5 separate regions of the Homo sapiens genome follow, and regions 2, 3, 4 and 5 are each linked to region 1. Evidence: fine-mapped expression QTL. A gene starts in region 1. Each other region holds a variant in brackets. All regions are shown on one strand. Distances are between the middles of the regions.

What was found. PIP is the estimated chance that this variant, and not a neighbour inherited with it, causes the effect. A credible set is the group of variants that fine-mapping cannot tell apart.
Region 2: its variant is the best candidate, but not a certain one, in a credible set for the expression of MCC in skeletal muscle (GTEx, PIP 0.71).
Region 3: its variant is the best candidate, but not a certain one, in a credible set for the expression of MCC in aorta (GTEx, PIP 0.50).
Region 4: its variant is the best candidate, but not a certain one, in a credible set for the expression of MCC in whole blood (TOPMed, PIP 0.75).
Region 5: its variant is the best candidate, but not a certain one, in a credible set for the expression of MCC in tibial nerve (GTEx, PIP 0.67).

The regions. Positions count from the first base shown.
Region 1 is chr5:113,485,920-113,491,688 of GRCh38, reverse strand. It overlaps MCC (MCC regulator of Wnt signaling pathway), which reads left to right and starts at 3,236. Exons shown (of 19, transcript NM_001085377.2): 1 at 3,236-3,444. The coding sequence starts at 3,275. RefSeq lists an enhancer at 3,043-3,337.
Region 2 is chr5:113,093,092-113,098,091 of GRCh38, reverse strand. All of the region lies in intron 8 of MCC (MCC regulator of Wnt signaling pathway), which reads left to right. Among named protein-coding and RNA genes, the nearest start is that of DCP2, 120 kb to the right of the region's middle. The variant A/C (reference allele first, on the strand shown) is at 2,576.
Region 3 is chr5:113,024,744-113,029,743 of GRCh38, reverse strand. MCC (MCC regulator of Wnt signaling pathway) reads left to right here. Exons shown (of 19, transcript NM_001085377.2): 18 at 688-810; 19 at 2,262-5,000. The coding sequence ends at 2,442. Among named protein-coding and RNA genes, the nearest start is that of DCP2, 50 kb to the right of the region's middle. The variant C/T (reference allele first, on the strand shown) is at 2,601.
Region 4 is chr5:113,003,202-113,008,201 of GRCh38, reverse strand. DCP2 (decapping mRNA 2) reads right to left here. Exons shown (of 11, transcript NM_152624.6): 8 at 4,125-4,260; 9 at 160-264. Among named protein-coding and RNA genes, the nearest start is that of DCP2, 29 kb to the right of the region's middle. The variant A/G (reference allele first, on the strand shown) is at 2,020.
Region 5 is chr5:113,276,023-113,281,022 of GRCh38, reverse strand. The region is part of intron 3 of MCC (MCC regulator of Wnt signaling pathway); the gene reads left to right. Among named protein-coding and RNA genes, the nearest start is that of TSSK1B, 160 kb to the left of the region's middle. The variant A/G (reference allele first, on the strand shown) is at 2,978.

The DNA.
Region 1 (5,769 bases):
TTCTCAAGTAGATGTTGCATGCTGTTGGTGACTCCACAGTTCTGGGGTTCTGGTAGTGGCCCTGTTCCCACAGCTCCACTAGGCATTGCTCTGTTGGAAACTCTCTGCAGCAGCTCTGACCCTACAATTCTGCTTAACATTGCCTTAGTTGGAGCTCTCTGAAGTGCTCTGCCCTTGTTACAAGCCTTTGCCTGGACCCAGGCTTTCAGCAAAAATCCTTTGACATCTAGGTGGAGACCCCACATCTCCACAGCTCTCGCTTTCTGCAAACCTGAAGAATTATAATGGCATCATATGGATGCCATTAAGGCCTATGGTTCTCATCTTCTTGAGTGACAGGTCAATTCACACCTAAAGCTTCTTGAGCCACAGCTGGCATGTCCAAAAAGCACTGTACCAGAATTTGGGAAGTAAAGACCTGAGAGAGACCTTGGCAGCAAGCCCATGAAAGGTGCCTCATGTCTGTCTCCTGAAACCATTCTGTCCTCCTGCCTCTGGGTCTGTGATGAGAGGAACAACTCAAAGTTCTCTGAAATGCCATCGAGGTCTTTCCTTCTCGTAATGATACTTTCTTCCTTTACTAATCTCTGGAACAAAAGGTTGCTGGGCTACACCCTTGGTTTCCTCTCCCAAACACACCTTTTCACTCTTCACATGGCCAGGCTGAGAGTTTTCCAAATCTTTCCACTTTGCTTCTCTTATGATTGTAAATTCCACCTTTAAAGTTTTTTTCCCCCTCTCACAGCTTGATGTAAGTGGTTAAAAGTAGCCATGCTGCAGCCTGAATGCTTTACTGCTTAGATATTTCTTTGGCCAGATACCCCAGTTTCTCTCTCTCAAGTTCAGCCTTCCAGAAAGCCCTCAGGCATAGAACAGTTCAGCTAAGTTCTTTGCCAATTTATAACAAGGATGGTCTTTACTCCATTTTCTTGTACCTTGTTCCTCAGTTCCATCTGAGACCTTGTCAGAATGGCCTTTACTGTCCATAGTTCCATCAGCATTCTGATTATGACCATTTAACCAATTTCTAAGGAGTTCCAAACTTTCCCTGTTCTTCCTGTCTTCTCAGCCCTCACTAGAACCTAGGCTTTTTCTAGACTGCTGCTTCATTCTTGTAGCCTCTGCTCATTATCCAGTTTCAAAGCTGCTTCTCCATTTTCAGGTATTCGTTTTCGTTAACACCCCACTCCCGGTACTAATTTCTGGTCTTGTCAATTTTCTGTTGCTTAGAACAGACTACCTGAAACTAGGGTGATTTATAAAGAAATGAATTTATTTCTTACAGTTCTGGAGAATGAAAAGTCCAAGGTCAATGGGCCACCCTGCTGGTGGGGACTCTGTGCAGAGTCCCAAAACAGTGCAGGGCATCACATGGCAAGGGGGCTGAGCCTGCTAACTCAGGTCTCTCCTTCTCTTCTTATAAAGTCACTAGTCCCACTCCCATGATAACCCATTAACTCATTAACTCATGAATCTATGATTTTAGTGCCCTGAAATACTGGGAACTTAGAGAATAATAAAGAAGTAAAGTAGGAATAGGTAGATGGGGTGGAGAGGAGGAGAAAGAGAGCAGAGATTCCTTCCTTCTGACCTAGCAGACATTCCCAAGACATATGGACTTGTTCCAGTTATATATTGCTGCATAACAAATCACCTCAAAACTTAATGGCTTAAAACAACAATTTTTAATTATTATCTTCACAGCTCTGGGGGTTGGTTAGCCAGTTTTGCTCAGGGTCTCCAATGCAGTTGCAGCATCTAGAGCTAGCATCATCTCTCACTCATGTCTGGCACCTAGTCTGGGAAGATTCTAAGATCCAGGGCTAGAACAGCTGTAGCTCTTTGGTCATCTCCTTTTTTCTTTACATGGTCTTTCTGCATGGTTTCTCCAGCTTCAGGGTAGCCAAACTTCTTTTCAGGCAGCTCAAGGCTTCAAAGGTAAGTGTCCCAAGGGAGAGAGCCAAGTGCAATCTGCATTGCCTTTTCTAACCTAGTCTCAGAAGTCAAGGCAGTCACAAGTCCAATCCAGGTTTAGGGGAAGCAACAGACTCCACCTCTTGATGAGGGGTGCACCAAAGAATCTGTGGACATATTTTAAAACCACCAGAGAACTTCACACGCCTCTCTGGCAGAAAATCCAGGACAGAATAATGAGTCATTCACGAAACCACAAATTGCTTCACTGTGGTTTCCCTTTGGCTATGGGGGAATAGTGCAGTGTTTAAAGGCTCCTGCTCTGGAGTTAGGCTGCCCGGGCTTGCCTCTGCCCTAACACTTACTAAACCTGGAACCTTGAGCAGGTCTTGGTACCTCAGTTTTCTTACCTGTAAATTGGGAACAATGAGAGCTAACAGTTGTTGAGCACTTACTAGGTGTCAGACATTGTCCTAACTGCATTATGTCTGCTCTCCTTTTATATGTAAGATAACTCTATGAGGTACTTATCTATTAATACTTCCTAAGTCGTAGGATTGATAATAAAAGAGGCATCTTCCAGGTCTGTAGTGTGGATCAAATGAGACCATCTATTATGTTCGCTCTTGGCATTATTAAAGCTGTTGGGGGAAATTCTAGTGATGCCTGGCCAGTAGAGTGAGCCGTTTCCAGAAATTGACCCAACGTACACAATGCCACACAGCGTGCAGACTCTTCCCAGTACAGAGTGGGAGCCAAGATGAGGGCTGCGAGGGCCAGGTTTCTTGACAGGTGTCAAAATTTCATAAAAAGGCCAGTCATTCCGGTTCTCATTGGTGGCTATGGGTACAGAACCCGGAACAATCCTGGAGAGTGGGATTACAAGCACCGTTTTGAGTTTGCAGAAGGAGAGTGTTTATATAGCTTCTCTGGAAAAGGAAGCCATGACTCCGGGCGGTCGGAGAAGGTCTGCCGGGAGTACACCTGCCCTCTGCCTGAAGCGTCCCCAAGTGTCCCGGGCCCGCGTCGTTGCCGGATGCACAATGCTGACACCCTTCCCGGGGGCTTCCAGTGTATTCTGCCTCCTCTTGTGTTCCCGTTGCCACCCTTAGCTCCCTGACTCTTCCAGCCACCTTCCCCTCCTCCCTCTTCCCTGAGGTGCCTCCTCGGGCGATTCCAGAGCGCCCATCTTCCCAGTCCGGGCAAAACCCGGAGAGGTGGAATCCCTCGCCCGGAGCGCCCCGGCGGCCACTGGGCATGCTCCGTTGTCAGGCAAGTTCGGGGCTGCAGGCAGCTTGCGCGCCGCGCGGATTCCAGCTGCGGTCGCGCGTACTCCTCCTCCCAAGTAGGGAGCGGGCGCATGATGGCGGCCGCGGCGGCAGCGGCTGCGGGGAGCTCCAGCAGCGGCGGCGGCGGCGGCGGCAGCGGCAGCAGCAGCAGCAGCAGCGACACGTCCAGCACCGGCGAGGAGGAGAGGATGCGGCGCCTCTTCCAGACGTGCGACGGCGACGGGGACGGATACATCAGCAGGTACGCGGGGAGGTACGAGGAAACCGACAGGAGCGAGATCAGTCCCTCCGCGCGCCCTTGACCCCTGCTCTGCCCCCTCGCCCCAACTTGCGGCAAGTTGCTCAGAAGCTCGCGGGAAAAGTTGGCCGCGACTCCGAGAGCGCGTAGCCGGCTCGGCCACGAAGGCCGAGGGGACTGCTCTGTTCGCCTTGCGGGGGTGCCAGTTGGTCCAACTTTTCCCAGCGCTGTCTTTGTCTAGGCGTTGGGAGACATCTCCTTAGGATGCGCACTCTTCCGGGGGCTTGGAGTGTTCTTCCCTGTGGGAAAAGGAGTTCTGGCCGCTTGTCCCAGGTAGGAGGGGCTGCCCCACAGCCTCGGGGTCCTGGGCATCAAGATGCCGCAGCACGGGGCAGCGATCTGCCCGGCGGCTTGGTGGACACCCCAGGGCCGCACCGGGAGGAGATGAGCTAAGCGACAGCCTCGGACAGGGAAATAACCTGTGAAGAAACTTTCTTGTGCCGCAGAACCCATGAATTCCAAACTTCAGAGCCCAAAGAATGGGTATCGTTTGCCACCCAGTATTGATTTAAACGCAGTAGCCTGAGAGGAACGAAGCGCTCAGGAGCAAACTAGGGCTAGACCCGACTCCTACCCGGCTCTGTGCGCTGACCAGGTGAGCTTCGGCGTGGCTCCGGGCGCCTCCGCGCCTCCACTCACAAACAAACTTTGGGGTGTTTGCTTCGGATCCCCCGCACTTCCTACAGAGGCGGTATTTAAGCTTCCTGCCTCCCGGCTTGGCCAAATAATTACTTCTGCCCAAATTTGTGTCACTTAGACTCTTGTGGTGAAGAAGGCAATCGCAACATTTTCTGGTATGCTTCTATTGAATGGTTGACACCGGCCATTGAAGACTTGGTATCCGTGGAAATTTGAATTGCCTTGGATGAAGGAGCAGCCTAAGTTGTGCATTACATGTTTCTTTAGTCTATGTCTTGGTGATGCTAAAGATCGTTTCTGAAAATCCGGGGCTGCTTCCTGATTGTCCCTGCCTACCTAAAAAAAAAAAAAAGAAAGCAAAGTGCGGAATTTTTCCCTTAAAATAAAAAAAATTATTTATTTGGGACTCAACGCAATTTTGATCATTCTTAGGTGAATTTTTATTACTTTGCTAAAGTTTTACTGAGAAACATTAGGAAGATATCAGAAAACTTGATGGAGTAATTCTGTTCGGAAATGAAAATAATATGTAATTCTGATTGACTCCATGCAAATTTCTATCTGGAAGTCTCGTTATTTTGGTTCTGGGAGTAAAAGAAATTTCATTATATAGTTTTCCTTTTTGTTGTTTTCCTACTTGAAAGGTTATTATCTCATTTGCAATAATAAAGGCAAACTCCAACTTTGGATACAATTTTTTTTTTTTTTAGACAGAATCTCGCTCTATCACCCAGGCTGGAGTACAGTGGCGTGGTCTTGGCTCACTGCAACCTCCGCCTCCTGGTTCAAGAGATTCTCCTGCCTCAGCTTCCCGAGTAGCTGGGATTACAGGTGCCCACTACCACTCCCGGCTAATTTTCGTATTTTTAGTAGAGAAGGGGCTTCACAATTTGGCCAGGCTGGTCTCGAATTCCTGACCCTAAGTGATCCGCCCGCCTCGGCCTTAGGAAGCGCTGAGATTACAGGCCTGAGCCACCGCTCCCCGCATGGATGCAAAAAAGTTTAATTTCACACGGGCAAGAGTGCATACAGAAAACTAGCAGCGTGCTATCCTTTTCTAATTTGGCCTATTAATATATTGCTTTATCTGAACTACACTTTCTATATAAATGCTCACATTATTTTCGGTGATTCTACCCGGGAGGATAATGAATTCTGTAAGCGTAATTTGAGTAAAGTGGGTGGTGATAAAGAAGCCGTTTTGGATTAGAGTAGAAACTGGCTGGGGCAAAAGTGGAAAAAGTTGTTAACATTCCTTGAGCTGCATTACTTTAATGTGTCTGCTTAAAAGTTTCAAGGTATGTGTAGTAATGAACCCTAAATCATAACTTTAACTGTGGGTGGAGCTGCCCTGAAAATTATGCTGTGGCAGAATTGCCATGTAGGAGAAGTTTAGGGATGGCAATCTAGGGCAACAAGGAACTTGTCTGGAAGTGTGTTTACCTGGTAAGCACAGTTTTACCTGGAATTTACGTTTATGTGGTAAGACTTGGGGAATGGGGCTAATGAAGGTAAGGGGCATTAAATGATTCCCTCTCTGAAGCCACTTTTCTGTGCTGCTTTCATTTAATGACCTGTACTTACCACTCTGTAGTGGGTGATGTGGTTTGGAGGGTTGTGCATTCCTGT
Region 2 (5,000 bases), 390 kb after region 1:
CACAAATCGGCCACATAAGTTCCTTCTGAGATTTTCTAGAAATTCTTCAGATTTACAGAATTCTTCTGCATGTTCATGTCATAAGGTGTTAACAATTTCTTCTTTACACACTGTGCTCTACCTGGGTATTTTCTGCATGTCTTGGAATGAGTTCCATCTGTCTCTCCTGGGCCTCTCTCATCCTGGGGGTCTGGCTTCTGGTTTCATTGCCACAGTAAATTCAAGAGACAAGTAGACATGCTATTTTGAACCAAATAAAAGTCACCCTCGGCCAGGTGCGGTGGCTCACGTTTATACTTCTAGCACTCTGGGAGGCCGAGGCAGGAGGATTGCTTGAGCCCAGGAGTTTGAGACCAGCCTGGAAGTGTAAGTGTTGTGATCTTACAGAGGTTAAATAAAGAGACATCTATGTTTTCCCTCACATCTCTTTTAGCCTCATTTGGCCATAGTCCCGTCTGAGCTGGTCCCACTCTACCTCCCCTTGGTGTTGCTTTTCTTGAGACAGGGCTATATAGAGAAAATGCAGACTGCAAAATAGTACTTTATATTTATTATGAATTTATAGCTGTATAAATTTCCATTTCATAGATATTCATATGTATGTATATAAAAATATTGAAAATAGACCAGAAAAATATAAACCAACATCATAATGGTAATATGTTGTATTGGCCTCAAAGGGACCTTAAACTTCTCTATAATGTTCTAATTTATGTTTTTAATGAATGTATTCATATCATTGTATAATTTTTAATATGCAGAAGTATATACATAGAAATAGAACACTGATATGCTAAAATATTAACAGGTTAAATCTGGGCAGTGGAAGTATGCGATTGCTTTTTTTCTTCTTTGTCCTCTTTAATTTTCAAATTAAGCAAAAACAAAAAAGTATGGATTATGGAGAATGATCTGTATCTCACAGCTTTTAATGGTTTGATATTCACATATAAGCTGAGTCTTCTTTTTTGTCCTTTATGGAACTTTGTTCATTTCTTATTTGTTCCATTTCTTCATGGGAATTTCTTTTCAGGATAAGGAAGAGGATGCCAATATTAGCTGAGTTTAAATTCATAAAAGTTCTGTAAAACCAAGTCCTGTCTCAACACCGCTCCTCTCAGCTCTCCCCAGCTGTCATCTAGCTGCATGGGAGGGAGCTGAGAGGAGCCAGGTCTGGCTTCAGTGTGCTCCTTCCACATGGGAGGCTCAGGTGGCTCTTCTTTTGTATGGCTGGTATATTAGTCAGTATGAGGCTAGATTTTTCTGCAATAACAGGTTCACTCCCCAAATCTCAGTGGCATGGCACGTTGTTTCTTGCCTGCACCATATATTCAGTGCAGGTTAGGGGACAGGTGCACGTCTCTGATCCATACATTCACTCAGAAACTCAGACTGTTGGCCATCCACCACCTAAGAGCCCACTCAAAGGCTCCCACCACAGCATTTAAATGCTTCTGCGCCCTGCCTGTTGACCAGAACTAGGCAGATGGCTTTACCTAACCATAAAGGGGCTTAGGAACATGTGGATATTCAACAGTACAAGTTTCTGATGCAGCTGATTTACATGCTTTGACTATGATACCAGCCGGGCTTGGCCGTGAATCAGAGTTGCAGAGAAACAGGCAGTTTCACTCATCCATCTTGTGGTGACCCCACACGTGTGTGTCAGAATCACTGGGAAGCTCTTTGAGAGGATGTGTGCCCAGGCCTTTCCATGAGCCAGAGTCAGTAAATGGGGTGTAGCACCCTGGCACACTCCCCCACATTATGATTGTGGTCAGCACTTGGAGACAAGGAAGGGAGAGGCAGTGTCCTTTGGTCACCCACTGGACATGGGCCAAGAGCTTCTCCAAGTGTCCTCTACTTCCCCTCTGCAGGTGAACTGAGAGAAAGAGCTACAGGCTTTCTGCCTTCTCCTCATGCCCAGCCTGCTCCTCCTGGGCCCACCATGTAGCAGTGATAAGCCCGGCATCTGCTAGGGAAGCTGCCTGCTATGTGGAGCCTGCCCTGCACTGTCCCTTCACCAGGGTCATCTGAGCTAGAAGTGGAGGGAGGGTGGAGTCCACCAGGGTACAGGCACCCCGGGGCTCCCAAGGCATGGAGGCACTGCCTGGCCCAGTGCCAAGTCCCCCAGCTCACCCCATGAAGGAAATCACTTCCACAGGGAGCCACTTACCAGTGCAAGCTCAGTAGGGCTTATTTTTAAGAAAGGCTCTGTTAATAATATTGATAGTATTGACATTCTGTGAATATTTGCAGACTGAACTCCTCTCAGACTAGACACCCCCCAGATTAAAATCAGATACCTCTAAAGGCAAAGCGGGACTTACTCAAAGCCTAAATCACCAGCCTGGGTAACATAGCAAGACCTCTGTTCTACCAAAAAAAAAATTTTTTTTTTTTTAATTAGCCAAGTGTGATGGTGTGCACCCATAGTCCCAGCTACTCGGGGGCTGAGGTGGGAAAATGGCTTGAGCCCAGGTGATCAAGTCTGCAGTGAGCTGTGATCACACCATTGTACTCCAACCTGGGTAATAATAGCAAGGCCCTGTCTCTAAAAATAAATAATTTTGAA[A/C]ACCTAAATTATGATAATAGCCCAGAACATATTTCAAACACTTATTTGTGATGGGTGATGATTTATGCACATTTTGTTTAATCTGCTCCAGAATCCTAGCTGATAGGTACTATTATTATACCCTTTTTAGAGATGGGAAAACAGAGGCCTACAAAAGCTTTAACAATCTTGCCCAAGTCTACGTTGATGTTAACTCTTGGTACCAAAATTTGGGATCTGGTGGCCTTATTAGGGGAGGCAGTTGTCATTGTTCTCTTGTTTAGACCACTTTCCTGTAGCCTTCTGTCCACCCTTGTCCTCATCCTAGCCCCACTCCCATGCAGACCAACAGTGGGTAAAATGTCCTCTGTTACAGCAACATGGGGGCCAGATTCCTTAGGGTTTCACAGACCCACTCTCCTGGCATTCTAATGCTACATGAAGGCACACTGAGCTTGTTGCAGAAAATAGGAAGCTGGTGGTATGCATGCTTTTACCTTGACCTGAGTCCAGTGTTGTGTTCCCCTCCTCTCTGTAGACTGAGGGAGTTTTAGGGGGAATCCAAGGCAGAGAATCCCCAGAACCCTGGTTCTTTGACCTCTTCCATGGACACAGCTCCCAGTTACTTCATGAGGGCCTTACACACACTTGAGCCACGGAGATTGTGAGGCAACTCCTGCTGTGGGCACCAGTATTTGCTTACTCACCCCAGCCTCATGTGCCTATGAGGAGGCCAGGCTGCTTCAAGGCTAGCTCTTGGCTGTCATGAAAGAAGCTGACTCAATTTGTCAAAAAGCTGGTAAGAAATTAGGAACATTGGCCGGGAGCGGTGGCTCATGCCTGTAATCCCAGCACTTTGGGAGGCTGAGGCGGGTGGGTCACAAGGTCAGGAGTTCGAGACCAGCCTGGCCAACATAGTGAAACCCCGTCTCTACTAAAAATACAAAAAATTAGCCAGGCGTGGTGGTGGGCGCCTGTAATTCTAGCTGCTTGGGAGGCTGAGGCAGGAAAATCGCTTGAACCCGGGAGGCAGAGGTTGCAGCAAGCCGTGATCGCGCCACTGCACACCAGCCTAGGCAACGTGTGAGATTCTGTCTCAAAAAAAAAAAAAAAAGGAAGATTGCCAAAATGCTGGCCTTTTCCAATGCAACCATTTTTATAACACATCCAGGTACTTTAGTGGGCTATAAAACAAAAGAGAAAATAGCACACATATCAAACTTACCGAGAGATGGAAATGCTGTTGGATGTTTTCTCCTTCTATTTTGTGATCTCTCTCTTCTGTTTCCATCTAGTCAAAATTGCCATTAACAATAAAATACCACTATCCTGAAACACCATGTAAATTTGATTTATAGAAAGAAATAAATATTTGCTGTAAATAGATTCTGATTATTTGAGGGCTCTAAGAAAAATCATATAAAATCTCCAATAAGAGGTGTGGTTCTCGGCAAAATATCTACAAACCCTGGACTTCGAGATAGCAGCTTTCCAAAAACTACACAGGGACTAACTGCATGAAGCTCATTAAGTAGAACTTTCCCAGCCTAGTGATTCTCACCATTCTATAGTGTGGGAATCATCTCATCTCAACCAGCTCCATTACACAGTGAAATTATGAATTACAGCCTAATTGCCTGAAATTACAACTACCCAGTGAGTACTGCTACGTATCATCAGCAGAACAGGCTCTTTCTTTTATGGCTAATAAAAATGTTTCTGATCCTGCTCAGGACTCTGGTGCCACCTTGCCTTCCTGCTTGTCACTCATCTGTGAGCCACATTCACAGATGACTTCATCAGCTGACTCTTGTCTGTGCTCCCACAATTGTACTCAGAGATTGAAGCATCCGCATAGCTGACCTGTCTCATACTTGCCTAGCCTCACGTTTCCAAGGAATTTCCTACCACTTTGGAAACCTGCTTCTGTGCACACTCTTTGTGTTTGACAGCTCTAGGGCCAAATCCCCCCAACATCTCACTTTCCCACTCTGCCTAATCCCTTATGCTCCTGGCTTGCATCATTTACTTTCTTTTGGATTGATTGAGAGAGAGAGAGAGAGAGAGATCAACAGATAGATAGATAAGATAGATATGGGATCTGGCTATGTTGCCCAGGCTGGAATGCAGTGGCTATTGACAGGTGTAATCACAGTGCGCTCGACCCTTGAATTCTAAGCTAAGCGATCCTCCTGCATAGCAAGCTGCCTGAGTAGCTGGGACTACAGGTGCGCACCACCATGCCTGGCTTTTGTTGTAATTTGGCACTCAGGACAGAGAGAGAAGATAATTATATTCACTAGTCACATTCACTGGTCCCTCTTTTAATTTATTCCTTGCAAATAATTTATCCCATATAATATCCCATCCCCTTCCCCCCATTTTGTGCATGTCCTAAGATAGTGTTTTGCATTACTTTTAATTTATTTAAATGTTACTCTGCTGT
Region 3 (5,000 bases), 460 kb after region 1:
AATTAGAGGAAGGCAATGAGCTGACTGGATACTGGAAACCTCCCTGAACTGACTCTAATTAGCTTGGGTTACCAAAGTAGTAGAGGATCCACAGAACTTGAAGCTGCTTTGCCTGTGGAGGGCACGTAGTCAAAAGTGCAAATGTAATTTCATGGGAAATAAGGACCCTTACAATGAAGAGAGTATCATATCTACTCCCTCTACCAATTTTTTGGTTTTTGGCAAGGTGGGATCATGTTGGTCTCAATGAGTGGGGACCTGTTCAAGGTAGGTTGCTAAACCTGAGTGGTTCAGGAGATACTTAGGACACCTGAAAAAGAAGGGGATGGAGACAGACGGGGGTTTGTGGTCAGGCCGCACTCATTGCTGAGGATCTGGTATGCCAATAGTAGAAAGGAACTTCTAGATTAGCTAGAAGACTAGAAACAGAAATTCCTGTCTTGTTTTCTTTGACACATAAGATCTTTAAAAAGCCCTTGTCATTGAAGAAATGGGTTTAAATCTGCATTTGAGAATGAATTCATTCAGGTGACAGTAGCGCTGTTGGGCCCTTTAGTATCTTTTCTCTCCCTTGCCTTTAGGCTTTGCAAGCTAAACCTTCCTCTTTCTGTCACCACTTCCCAGGGAGTGGGCACCTCCAGCATCATCTCAAACTACTCCTGGCATATTTTGTCTCCTTTAATATAGAGAAAAGAAGTTGAAGGCCAGAGTTCAAGAGCTGGTGAGTGCCTTGGAGAGACTCACCAAGAGCAGTGAAATCCGACATCAGCAATCTGCAGAGTTCGTGAATGATCTAAAGCGGGCCAACAGGTAAAAATCTCCCTATACCCAGCCCCCACCGCCCTCCACCTGTGGTACTTGGACTGACACCCTGCATGTAGACACAGCACCAGGGATGGACATTTCCCTAACTCTTAAGAACTAACTCTAGAAAGTGGGTGAGTCCCTACCTGGCTCTCTAAGAGCCTGGTCTTCCTTAGAGTGGCATCTCCCAAGATGGTCTGTGGAAACTAAGAAATGCTCAGTAACAACATCCTTTGGCCAAATGTAGCATACTGTGGTATATGCCTCCTGGTATTATGTATCTTAAATGTTCTGAGAAGTCATATAATAAAAAATCTGTTTAAGCCAGTATTTTCCAAACAAAATTAGCCATGGAATTTATTTGAGCAACACAATATCCACTGGAATACTTCAGGAAATACTGCTCTAAGACTGGGCTCAGGACTCTTCTCTATAAAAAACGGAGGACCTCAGAGAGCTTTTGTTCCTGTAAGTTGTATTTATTGATACTTCTCATGTTAGAACTAAAACCAAGATAAATTATTTAAAGTTTTTATTATTTCATTTACAAAAAAAAAAATGGCATTTTTATGAAAAACTATTTTCCAAGAAATAATTAGAAAAGTGGCACTGGTCTTACAATTCTGCAAATCTTTAATGTCTGGCTTAATAGAAGACAGCTAGGTTCTCACATTTGCTTCTGTAGTCAACATTATGTGGATGTATATTGAGAACACCTGGCATCATCCAGCTCTATAGTTGGAAATAAAAGCTCAAGACCTCACAGACCTCCTGAATGGGTTTTACAAATCTCTGGGGTGAGTCCTCAGACTATCTGGGAGAACTGCAGCTGTAAGGGTAATGACTGTACATGGAATGGACCTACCTGGGCTCACTGTATACCCTACCACCAGGCTCTGGTGGGAACAGTTCAAAGGCCTGTATATTCCATGTTTGGCTTTGCAGCATTGGCTTATGGCCTAATTTAATATTCCGAGTCCCACCAGCCCAAAGCATAAAGGGAAGGTGGAACAAGAACAACCTCTCTGCTCTCGTCCCAGGTATGGTCACTTTGATTGCAGTGCCTTAGGAGTACTCTCCTGTAAGATACACTTGACTATGTTGCAAGCAACCATGGAGCAACAAATAGACCCACTATTTGTATTTATCCGTTTTGGACTGGGCCAATTTGGATTGCTGGTTTGACTCTTAGAACCCCTTCTAATATGTGAGAGTGACCAGCCTCTAGCAATCCGGCTGGATTCATCAGGGTTAAGCCAGTAGGTGACTGGCCGTTGAGTGTTGACATCCTGGTGCTGTCCCTCCTCTGACCACTAGATTTCAGATTCTTACCGAAGAGGATGAGTGATCTTTCTTCAGAGCAGTGCTCACTAGATCTGGTTATCCAGTGGACAGGATGGTGTCACGATGCTACTTAGGATGAATCTTAATACCAATTTCCCTTCATTCCCACCTAGCAACCTGGTGGCTGCCTATGAGAAAGCAAAGAAAAAGCATCAAAACAAACTGAAGAAGTTAGAGTCGCAGATGATGGCCATGGTGGAGAGACATGAGACCCAAGTGAGGATGCTCAAGCAAAGAATAGCTCTGCTAGAGGAGGAGAACTCCAGGCCACACACCAATGAAACTTCGCTTTAATCAGCACTCACGCACCGGAGTTCTGCCCATGGGAAGTAAACTGCAGCAGGCCACTGGGGACAGAAGGGCCCATGTACTTGTTGGGAGGAGGAGGAAAGGGAAGGCTGGCAGGTAGGTCGGCACTTGGACAATGGAGTGCCCCAACTCAACCCTTGGGG[C/T]GACTGGCCATGGTGACATTGTGGACTGTATCCAGAGGTGCCCGCTCTTCCCTCCTGGGCCCACAACAGCGTGTAAACACATGTTCTGTGCCTGCTCAGCAGAGCCTCGTTTCTGCTTTCAGCACTCACTCTCCCCCTCCTCTTCTGGTCTGGCGGCTGTGCATCAGTGGGATCCCAGACATTTGTTTCTGTAAGATTTTCCATTGTATCCTCTTTTTGGTAGATGCTGGGCTCATCTTCTAGAATCTCGTTTCTCCTCTTTCCTCCTGCTTCATGGGAAAACAGACCTGTGTGTGCCTCCAGCATTTAAAAGGACTGCTGATTTGTTTACTACAGCAAGGCTTTGGTTTCCAAGTCCCGGGTCTCAACTTTAAGATAGAGGCGGCCATAAGAGGTGATCTCTGGGAGTTATAGGTCATGGGAAGAGCGTAGACAGGTGTTACTTACAGTCCCAGATACACTAAAGTTACAAACAGACCACCACCAGGACTGTGCCTGAACAATTTTGTATTGAGAGAATAAAAACTTCCTTCAATCTTCATTTTGGAGGCAGGGCTGGGAAGGGAGCGCTCTCTTGATTCTGGGATTTCTCCCTCTCAGTGGAGCCTTATTAATATCCAAGACTTAGAGCTGGGAATCTTTTTGATACCTGTAGTGGAACTAAAATTCTGTCAGGGGTTTCTTCAAGAGCTGAGAAACATTATTAGCACTTCCCGCCCCAGGGCACTACATAATTGCTGTTCTGCTGAATCAAATCTCTTCCACATGGGTGCATTTGTAGCTCTGGACCTGTCTCTACCTAAGGACAAGACACTGAGGAGATACTGAACATTTTGCAAAACTTATCACGCCTACTTAAGAGTGCTGTGTAACCCCCAGTTCAAGACTTAGCTCCTGTTGTCATGACGGGGACAGAGTGAGGGAATGGTAGTTAAGGCTTCTTTTTTGCCCCCAGATACATGGTGATGGTTAGCATATGGTGCTTAAAAGGTTAAATTTCAAGCAAAATGCTTACAGGGCTAGGCAGTACCAAAGTAACTGAATTATTTCAGGAAGGTCTTCAATCTTAAAACAAATTCATTATTCTTTTTCAGTTTTACCTCTTCTCTCTCAGTTCTACACTGATACACTTGAAGGACCATTTACTGTTTTTTTCTGTAGCACCAGAGAATCCATCCAAAGTTCCCTATGAAAAATGTGTTCCATTGCCATAGCTGACTACAAATTAAAGTTGAGGAGGTTTCTGCATAGAGTCTTTATGTCCATAAGCTACGGGTAGGTCTATTTTCAGAGCATGATACAAATTCCACAGCCTTCTGTTCGCTGGAGGATACTCCAGCCACCAGTTCGGAGGGCAGACAGCTGTATCCTAAAAGCAACCACTGAGAGGCCAGCAGTGAGGCTGCCCATCTCCAAAACGAAACAACAGATCAACTGGTATCAGTCTAGAAGGACCAGCTTTGGGGTGCTTTGATCACTATGAAAATGTTCACTGGTTTCTGTCAATCATTTGGTCAAAGTTAGTTCCTGTGATTTTTTTTTTTTTTTTTTGAGATGGAGTTTTGCTCGTCACCAGGCTGAAGTGCAGTGGCGTGATCTTGGCTCACTGCAACCTCTGCCTCCTGAGTAGCTGGAATTACAGGTGCCCGCCACCATACCCAGCTAGTTTTTTTGTATTTTTAGTAGAGACAGGGTTTCACCATGTTGGCCAGGCTGGTCTCGAACTCCTGACCACTGATCCACCCACCTCGGCCTCCCAAAGTGCTGGGATTACAGGCATGAGCCAATGTGCCTGGCCATTCCTGTGATTTTTTAGAATTTTTCACTTTTCATATAAAGTTGCATTTTATCATGAGGAAAATGTTTTGGCTGAAAAACATATGCCCCAAAAAAAAAAAAATCAGTTTTCACTATTTTTCCAGCTTGCCTAGGGAAACGTCCTCCCCTGAGCAAAGTGGGATGTGCATGGCTCTTTTTTGTGATTAAGCAGGCATCAAATGGGCAGTTTTCATTTTCACTGACACAGAAACATGTGGCTGAAGCAGGAATAAAATCCTGCCTACTGACTTCTGTCTCCATTCTTGCTCCAGGTAAAATCAGAGAACCTCCCCTTCTCTGAGAATTCCCCCAGGCAGAGGCGGCTCCAGCTCCTGTTAAGGGCCCCAGTTTTACTCATGCTACCTGACCTTAGTTTTAGTACTTTCAAATGTGATTTGGGTAAAAACTATTTTGCAGGCAAAAGTGTTAATTTTTTATAAATATGTATAATAAAAAAGCTATAAAAGTTTTTCCTTTTCTTGTATTTTTCAAATACTCCCCAAGACACAATCCTTGAAGGTGAACTAGGTGGCACTTGATTATGCTAATTGTGGGAGCTACTGAACTAAACTATACTGATTA
Region 4 (5,000 bases), 480 kb after region 1:
TTTAGTGTGAATAGTGCACAAGTCAGCTACACAAAAATCCTACTAGTATATCAATTAAAATAAGAACAAAACAAGTAACATTCCTGTGCTTTGGCAATGCCCTTGTTTCACTCTTCAGAGGATGAACTGCCTACTTAGTGTGACAGCTATAACTCTTACCATCAAAGAATTCTGCTGCTTTGCTGGCTGAAGCCCATTTGTTCTTTTCTTTTGATTAGGTGAATCTTGATACTGTTTTCTGCCATTTCCCCTCATACTTTGATTCTGTTTTCCCAAAAAGAAATATAATATGAATCTATAGCATAATGTAATAGCACAAAAAAAATACCCCATGAATATGTTTAGCTGGTTGAACCAAGTTTTTAGCAAAGCTTCTCCTACCCAAATTTTCATTAATCACCCTATCAATGTATTTTCTTATAGAAGTCAGTGCTTCCCAAAGCAAGAGTTCTCTAAAGGTATGAAATAGCAAATACACTTGCCCCTAGAAATCTTTCCACACCTCGGCCGGGCGCAGTGGCTCATGCCTGTAATCCCAGCATTTTGGGAGGCTGAGGCGGGCGGATCACGAGGTTGAGATGAGACCATCCTGGCTAACACAGCAAAACCCCGTCTCTACTAAAAATACAAAAACTTATCCGGGCATGGTGGCACACGCCTATAGTCCCAGCTACTCAGGAGGCAGAGGCAGAAGAGTCACCCGAACCCAGGAGGTGGAGGTTGCAGTCAGCCAAGATGGCACGACTGCACTACAGCCTGGGCAACAGAGGGAGACTATCTCTTTTTCAAAAAAAAAAAAAAGAAAGAAAGAAAGAAAGAAAGAAATCTTTCCACACCTCTTGCCTTATCCCATGTCTGCTTATAGATCTCGTTTCTAATGCATAAATGGAACCTCTCTGTAAAGGAATGCCGAGGGACATTAGCTACAGTTCTTAAAGCAGAAAATGGGTAGATGTAGTAATCAATTGTTACCCTAGAAATCTGCTTTAAATTATTAATAAGCAGTATTAATTTTTACAAAGTTTTTACTATATTTTTACAAAATAACAAAGATTACTATTATTTTTTTTTTAAATGGAGTCTCACTTTGTTGCCCAGGCCGGAGCACAGTGCTTGGCTCTCTGCAACCTCCACCTCCCAAGTTCAAGCGATTCTCCTGCCTCAGCCTCCCAAGCAGCTAGGATTACAAGCATATGCCACCATGCCCGGCTAATTTTTGTATTTTTAATAGGGACGGTGAAGGTTTTCACCCTGTTGGCCAAGCTGGTTTCAAACTCCTGACCTCAAGTGATCCACCCACCTTGGCCTCCCGAAGAGCTAGAATTACAGGTGTGAGCCAACGTTCCCGGCTAAGATTTATGTTTTAAAATGTGGGCCATTATTCCTAAACTTAGACATGCAATAGTTTGAATCTTGCTATTAAATTGCTTTAAGATAATTTTCCTACCAAAAAATTCTTAAGTTTAAATTAAAACGAACATTTTAAACATTAATTTGTTGTTTGAGATATTGAAAAGATAGCTATTTGAGGACTGGCTAAAATAGAATAAATAGGAGGAACTTCTAAAATATATATATATAAAATAAGAATGTTAATTTACATTCCAACCTATAGGGAAAAATAACCAGTTGCTAAAATAGCTGGAAAACAATAACCTAAGTAAGTGATGTGAAGGAAGTATGGCTTTGAATGACTCATGTTACTACGCAGTTTTAATTTAGTTTCATTCCACTCTTCCCAGCAGTTTTTTAATTGTGGTACAAAATACATACAATTTACCACATCAACCACTTGTGAATGTATAATTCAGTGGCATTTAGTATAGTCAGCACTACCCACTTCCCCAACTTTTATCATCCCAAACAAAAACTCTGCAACCAATAAACAGTAACTCCCTATTCTCCCCTCCCTCTAGCCTTGGTAATCTCTACTTTGTGTCTCTATGAATTTGCCTATTTAGGAATGGAATAACATTAATACGATATTTATCCTCTTGTGTCTGGCTTATTGCACTTAGC[A/G]TAATGTCCTCGAGGTTTACCCATATTGTAGCATGCTTCGAAATTTTTTTTTTTTTTTTTTTTTTGGAGATAGGGTCCCACTCCTGTTGCCCAGGCTGGAGTGCAATGGCGCCACCACAGCCTTGACTTCCCAGGCTCAGGTGATTTTCCCACCTCAGCCTCCTGAGCAGCTGGAACTACAGGTGTGCACCACCATGCCTGGCTCATTTTTTATATTTTTAGTAGTAGAGACATGCTGCCCAGGTGGGTCTCGAACTACTGGGCTCAAATAATCCGCCTGCCTCAGCCTACCAAAGAGATGGGATTACAGGTATGAGCCCCCATGCCTGGGCAGAATTTCATTTCTTAATTTCATTCCTTTAAAGCTGAATGATATTCCATTATGTGTATACACCACATTGTTTATCCATTCATCTGTTGACAGGCATATGAGTTGTTTCCACCTTTTGGCTATTGTGAATAATGCTGCTATGAACATTGGTACACAAGTTATCTGTTTAAGTTCCTGCTTTCAATTCTTTTGGATATTACCTAGGAATGGAATTGCTGAGTCACATGGTAACTCTGTTTAACTGTTTGAGAAATTGCCAAACTCTTTTCCACAGCGGTTGCACCATTTTACACTCCCATCAGCAATGCACAAGGTCTCCAGTTTCTCCACATCCTCACCAATACTTGTTTTCTGTTTTTTTGTTTTTTATTATAGCCATCCTAATGGGTAAGAAGTGATATCTCACTGTGGAGATACCACTAATTATTAACAATGTTCCCTAATGATTAATAATGTTGAGCCATTTGCATATCTTCTTTGGAGAACTGTCTATTCAAGTCATTTGTCCAGTTTTAAATTAGATTGTTGTGTTGTTGTTGAGTTCTAAGAATTCTTTACATATTCTGGATATTAACCCCTTATATATATAATTTGCAAATATCTTCTATTTTGTGGGCTACTTTTTCACTATTTTGAAAATGTCTTCTGAAGCACAAAAGTTTAATTTTGACAAGCCCAGTTTACACACACACACACACACCCACACGCACACTTTTTTTTTTGAGACAGAGTTTTGTTCTTATTGCCCAGGCTGGAGTGCAATGGCGCGATCTTGGCTCACTGCAGCCTCTGCTTCCCGAGTTCAAGCAATTCTCCTGCCTCGGGCTCTATCTAGAGTAGCTGGGATTACAGGAGCCCGCCACCACGCCCAGCTAATTTTTTGTATTTTTAGTAAAGACGGGGTTTCACCATGTCGGGGCTGATCTCGAACTTATGACCTTAGGTGATTCACCCGCCTCGCCTCCCAAAGTGCTGGGATTACAGCCATGAGCCACCACGCCTGGCCAAGCCCAGTATATTTTTAAAATAAAAAAAAAAAAAAAGTAACATTGAAACCTGAAATTAAAAAAATAACATCAAGTATTAGTAAAGATGTGCAACGATTAGAACTCTCATGTATTTTGCTGAGGATATAAATAACTTGAGTAAATTAGCAAATAGATACTCAATAACACAGGCATATCCAGTGATCCAATAATTCTACTTTTCTTTCCTTTTAGTTACACAGAACTGTGTATATTCATCAAAAGACAGGTATAGGAATGTTCACAGCAGCACTGTTTGTTAAAGCCCCAAACTGGAAACAACCAAAATGTGCATTAACAGTGTTATGAATAAATAAACTGTGGTGCTTAGAACATGTGGAAAAAAGGAAAACAAGTATTAATAGCAGTGTAATTATACACTCGAATACAACAATGAAAATCGAAGTTTACAATACGCTGTTACTTTTTCTTCCTGAACAAAAGCCAATAGATCCCACTTGTGTTAATTTGGAAAATATTTTCCTTATGACTTATTTTTAAATGAACCTTTCATTGGCAGCATATACACAAAAGTCAGATGCTAATTCTTATTATTAACTGGATTTACACCGGAACTGTAAACATTAAGAAGCCTCAGCCCTGCTTCAAATCATAAGTAAGGAACATACAGGCTTTGATCAGTAACTCAGAGCTCTCTGTAACTATTAAGATGTAATTCTCCAATTGAGAAAAATTTCAAAGCCAAATGATCTAAATTTCTGAAAAGACTGTAATTGTGTATCACTCACCTTTCCTTTTAAAAGGTCAGACATTTCAGAATGATTATTATATGGCTTTTGCTGCAGTGGTTGCCTGTGCTTTACCCACTGGTCACCAGGAGAACCGTCAGGAAATAACTGCTGACTGTGGCGGAATTTGGTTCGACTACACCAAGATTTAAAAAATAATCAAATCAGAAAATGTTCACTTATAGTTCTTTTAACACCTTAATAGTTAAATTTATAGACTACATATTTTCTTATTTACTGTCTATCTTCCCCACTGGAATGTAAGTTCTATGAGAGCAGAGATTTTAATCTGCACTGCTTTATCCTCATCACCCAGATGAGTGCCTGGTATTCAATAAATATTTCTTGAATGAATTAATACACTACTATTTTTTTTCATCCTAGACTTAAAAAAATTATCCAGGCCATCTCCTCCCTATAAGTGATTATAGTGTACTCTTAAAAAATATGCAGACTATAAATCTAAATTTAGATGAAACGAATGTACATTTTCCTGCTTTTTGAGACTGGGTTTCCCTCTGTCATCCAGGCTGGAGTGCAGTGGCAGGATCACAGCTCACCGTGGCCTCAACCTCTCAGGCTCGAGCCATCCTCTCACCTCAGCCTCCCAAGTTGCTGAGACTACAGACACACGCCACCATGCCCTGCTAATTTTTTGACCCTGCACAAGTCAGTTACAGACCACATCCTAGCTGAAAGATGATCTGAGAAAGTAAGCTACCCTCTAAAGTATAAAATTAAAGGGCACAAGATAATGAATGAGCAAATTAAGTAAAGATCCAGTCTCGAATTCTTCTGCAAAAGAATCTATTAAAATGTTGTACTAATGCAGGCTGAGCGCAGTAGCTCACACCTATACTCCCAGCACTTTGGGAG
Region 5 (5,000 bases), 210 kb after region 1:
TGTTAAGCAGTTTGGTCATTTGCTGACCAGCATATACCATGAGGGCAATGGGAAGGGAACTGAAGAAGCCCTAAACCTAAGCCCTAGGCTCTTCCACCTCCCACTTGGTTGTGGAGCTTTGGACCCCTTGGACTTCCATGGCTGGGTCATCTCCATGGACTCTCTTATGGTGGTGGTTTCCATTCCCATGGCTTTGACTGCCACCTCTAAGCTGTTGCCTCCAACCTAGGTTGGTCTGAATATCCAACAGGTAAAAGGAGAATCACAGGTCTTGTGCAATACAAAATCTTCTTGTAGTCAGTATTCTTCCTCCTCCTCCCTCCTGCCCTCTCAAAACAAAGCTCATACTGCCCCTTCTTCCTGTGATGACGTTTCTCCATCTGGTGACACCAACTCATCTTCTAGACTCAACATGTCACCTTCTCTGGAAGGCCTTTCTCAACTCCTGGTGAGTGCCAAGTACCCCATGAAGTCTGGCAACACTCCTCACCCCTCTGACTTACGACTTAGAATTCTATAATACAGTGTGTTCACCTATGTCTCTGTCTCAGCACCTTTGCTGGTGAGAGTGGCTGGTGGCTGGAGAAATGCTTTCGTATCAGAACATACCCTACATTGTTGCAGTGTGCTTGACAGAATACATGATAATAAAGAATAATGAAAATAAGTAAAATAATACTAGGAGATAGATAGAAAAGTTACACATAGGGCAACTACTTTTATATCAACCAGCGGTGTGAGCCCCTGGAACCCACCACCCCCAGGTTCCCTTTCCATGAAAAAGGATCTGGGCTACAGCTCGCCTCTATCTACTTCTGAAGGCAAACACTGAGCCCCAGGGGCCCACCCAGTACAACTGGGGTTGGAGAGCTTTGTTTCCAGCCAGATTACATGAGAGTATCTGAACTTGGCTCTGGGTGTCCTCTCTCAGGAAGAGAAGAGATCAGTGTGGAGGCCGAATGGAAGCAAGTTGTAGTCCTGGGATGATGGGAGTAGCTCCAGGAGCTGGAATTGTTGCAGATTGTGTTAAGAAATGATAAATGTGAAGAATGGCAATACCATATTATTTTGTTGAAATACTTCTAGTGAAGCAGTATGGTACAGAATTACTTCAATTTCATTTTGCAAGTATTCCCTTTATGCATTTCAAAAGCTACATCTATACTTTTTAAAACATATTGCCTTTAATACAACAAAACTGTTTAGTGATGCACAGTAATAATTCTGATATTCAAAGCATCCTGTTACAAATTAGTATTGTTAAATGTATATTGTCCATTGATACTCTGATTATTCTAAAAATTCGTAAGAGCTTGTGAGAATGGTAACGTAATGCATCTGGACTTATCAAGGTTTCTTTCCAAATTAAAAATGAATAGTATTAGAAGATGGGGCTTGGGGGATAATTTTATCTATAATTGTGTTCTACATGCAAAAAGACATCCTTTCTTACAAAGATACGAAGTCCATGCAGTTAAGCTCCGATATTCATTTGCAAGAGACAAATATGTTAATTGCTTTTCTGGGGTGAATGATTCTTAATCCAGTAGAAATGAAAGAGTTTTAAATTCATTTTACTAATTTTTTTTTAATGTCAGTGTTCATAGATTACTATATAGAGTTAATAAGGTATTCCAATGAGGTCTGGGTTACTGGGTGAATTTCATTCACAATACGACACTGTAATATTCCTCAGTGGTAGAATTAAGTTTTCATCAAAGCAATCAGCCTGCAATGCTTCGGGTGACTCTGAGCATTGAACATTGGTGCTTATGTGGGTTGGGTGGGAAACTGGAGCACACCATGTCGTGAAATGATGAGGCTGATGTAGTGTCTTATAAGTGCTACTTAACACAGCAATTGGAATTGGGAAGTTACTGAGATCAGTTGTGTGGAGAGTTCTGAGGTTTATGACTCAGAAAAGAAGTTAACCTTTTCATTGCACATCTGACTATCAAAAACCCCAGCTAAAGACTCATGGGCTTTTCCCTTTATATTCTTGCCTTTAATATACCAACGACATAGAAAAATTTTAAAATTGCTTTTTAAAAATACTCTAACATGTTAATATTTGGAAAAGGCCAGCTTGCAAAAAGAGACACTTGATTTGTAAATTTCTGGACAGCATAAACCAGACTATATGGTGGTGAGAATGAAGGCAGTTATTAAAGGTTTCAAGAAGAGCATTCAGCTGTGCTAAGCACTTTGAAAGCATTTGTTTGGTCATTTCCCTGCCTAGAAACCCTTCATTTCGAGGTACCCAGCCCCATATACCCTGTTGATCACTCCACCTATATCTCCAGCCACGTCGCTCACATTCTATCCTCCAGCCAACACCGCTGATTTCAGCACCTTCAAGGTGCCTGGTTGTCTCTGGACTTCACAACTTCACATTTGCTATTCCTCCACTGGTATACTATCCACATCCTTAAACTTTGCTTGTCTACCTCCTGCTCATCATATAGGACTTAGTTTAAATGTTAGTTACCTTGGAAAACTGTTTCTGATGTTGCCACCCCCGGTCTAGGTTCCATCTCCTCTCCTGTGTTCCCCGTTGCATTGGGTAGTTCGCATTGTAGCAGTTAATACACTGTAAAGGCCTGAGGACTTGGTATTTCGTACCACAATGGCTGTTATTCACCATTGACCCTAGTACCTGCATAGTGCCTAATAGTGCCTGACCCTCAGCATTCACTTTCTAGTGAATGGCCTTCATTTAAAGTATGCCATGGTCCCATGAGACAGATCCTGTCTTTAGGGGCATTTGATGTGAGAGAATAGAAGCTCAGACAGGTTAAGGATCTTGTCCAAGGTCACAGGTCTGGTAGATGGCAGGGCCAGGTTTCAATTAGGGTTTGATTCCTGAAGTCCCTGCTGTTTGCATAATGCTACTCCTTTCTCAGACCATGTTGTCATGGCTGTTGGAGCTGGAAGATGGCTTGGTAGGTTGCAGGGAAGGACAGGCATTGGGAATAAT[A/G]CCCAGGTTTCTGAGGGGATTCTGCTGATAGGTGAGACTGGAGATCTCCTAGTAAAATCCAGTTCGTGAGGAATGATGAGTCTAGATTTGGGCATTCTGAGTTTGAGATGCCTGCTGGTCATCTAAGTGGAAATGTGCAGTAGACTGTTGGATAATAAGGCTCAGAGACAGGTCAGGATTTGGGCATCTTTGGTCTTCATGGCTGTTCACTCACAATGCAGATGGCTGATGGGTGATGTAGACATATAGTTTATTCCAGTCTCTCCACAGTAGATGCCAATATCGCATATACCACATAAATAAAGAGTGGTATGAAGTAACCATTTGGTACTGTTTGTACTCAAATGCAGATGAAAGGACCATAGTCTGTCTTCTAGCATTTTATGTATATATAATACATGTGTGTATAGTTCAGAATCTGCCATTATAACTAAAGCAGACCGTGCTTTTTAAGTCATGGTTTTTAAAATTGTTTTTAAGAAAAATTTAATTAGTTCACATCACATGAGCATTTCCACCTTGGACTCCTTACAGAAAGGGCAGGATAAAGAGTAAGGAGTATGCAGGCATGATCATAAAAATAGTGCATATTCATACAAAACTTGGGAAATAAATGAGTAAACAAAAAATTTTGTATTTTACTATCAGGTAACATTTTGGTAATTTTTTTTTTTTTTTGAGATGGAGTCTCACTCTGTCACCCAGGCTGGAGTGCAGTGGCACAATCTCGGCTCACTGCAACCTCTGCCTCCTGGGTTCAAGCGATTCTGCTGCCTCAGCCTCCCGAGTAGCTGGGATTACAGGTGCCCGCCATGATGTCTGGCTGTTTTTTTTTTGTTTGTGTTTTTGTTTTTTGTTTTTTTTTAGTAGAGATGGGGTTTCACCATGTTGGCCAGGCTGGTCTTGAACTCCTGACCTCAGGTGATCTGCCTGCCTAGGCCTCCCAAAGTGCTGGGATTACAGGTGTGAGCCACCATGCCTGGCCGGTATGTCTTTAGTTATAAAGATTTCTTTAAAGGGATCATACTTGAGTTTTAAAGAATCATATTCTGCATTTTTTTCAAGTTTTCCTTGATATAGCTTCTTTTTAAAAACTTGATTCCTTTTGGCCAGGTGCAATGGCTCACACCTGTAATTCCAGCAATTTGGAAGCCTGAGGTGGGGGGAATCACTTGAGCCTAGGAGTGTAGACCAGCCTCGGTAACACCGTGAGACCATCTCTACAAAAAAAAAAAAAAAATAAGAAGAAAAATTAGTTGGGTGTGGTGACGAGTACACATAGGCCCAGCCACTCGGGAAGCTGAAGTGGGAGGATCACTTGAGCCTGGAAAGTCGAGGCCCCAGTGAGCCGAGATTGTACCACTGTACTCCAGCCTGGGCAACAGAGCCAGACCCTGTCTCAAAAAACAAACAACTTGATTTTTAATAACTCTGATAGTCCATCTTATATATCATAATATACAGTTAACGACTGAGTAAGTATGTAGGTTTTCAATCTGTGTTCGTTATAAGCACACCTACATAACTTTGTGTTTTCTAATATCTTTAGGGCAGATCAAAGGAAGGAAAGTGGGGGAGGAGAGAGGGAAAATAGTGTAAATGAAGAAACTGAGCAGTGTATTGTGCAGAATTGGTGTCTGACGTTAAAGAAGAAAAAACAAGGGTACCTTGATGCCCCAGGGTGGTCTTTGTAAAATAATCCAAAGACTATAAAGTTCAGTTTAAAAAAACCAAACACATAGCTATAATAAATTAGGACCATCTGTTGTTCTACCCAGGCCTGCGTACTCAGTCTCCAGCCTGTTGCTTATTTAAGAATGCCTTTACAATGGTGAAGGAGTGCTGCCAGGGTGTCTGGAGGGAGTCAGGGGAGGCGTGTGGGGCAAGGAGGAAGGCAGCAGCTTGGGGAGCCAGCATGGGCTGCTGTGCTGTTCCCACACTGGTTACCCTTTGGGGCCAGAATCAATGTGGCCACTGTGGCCTTGAGATTCTTGCCACCTGTGGCCTTTGACAGCCCATCCAT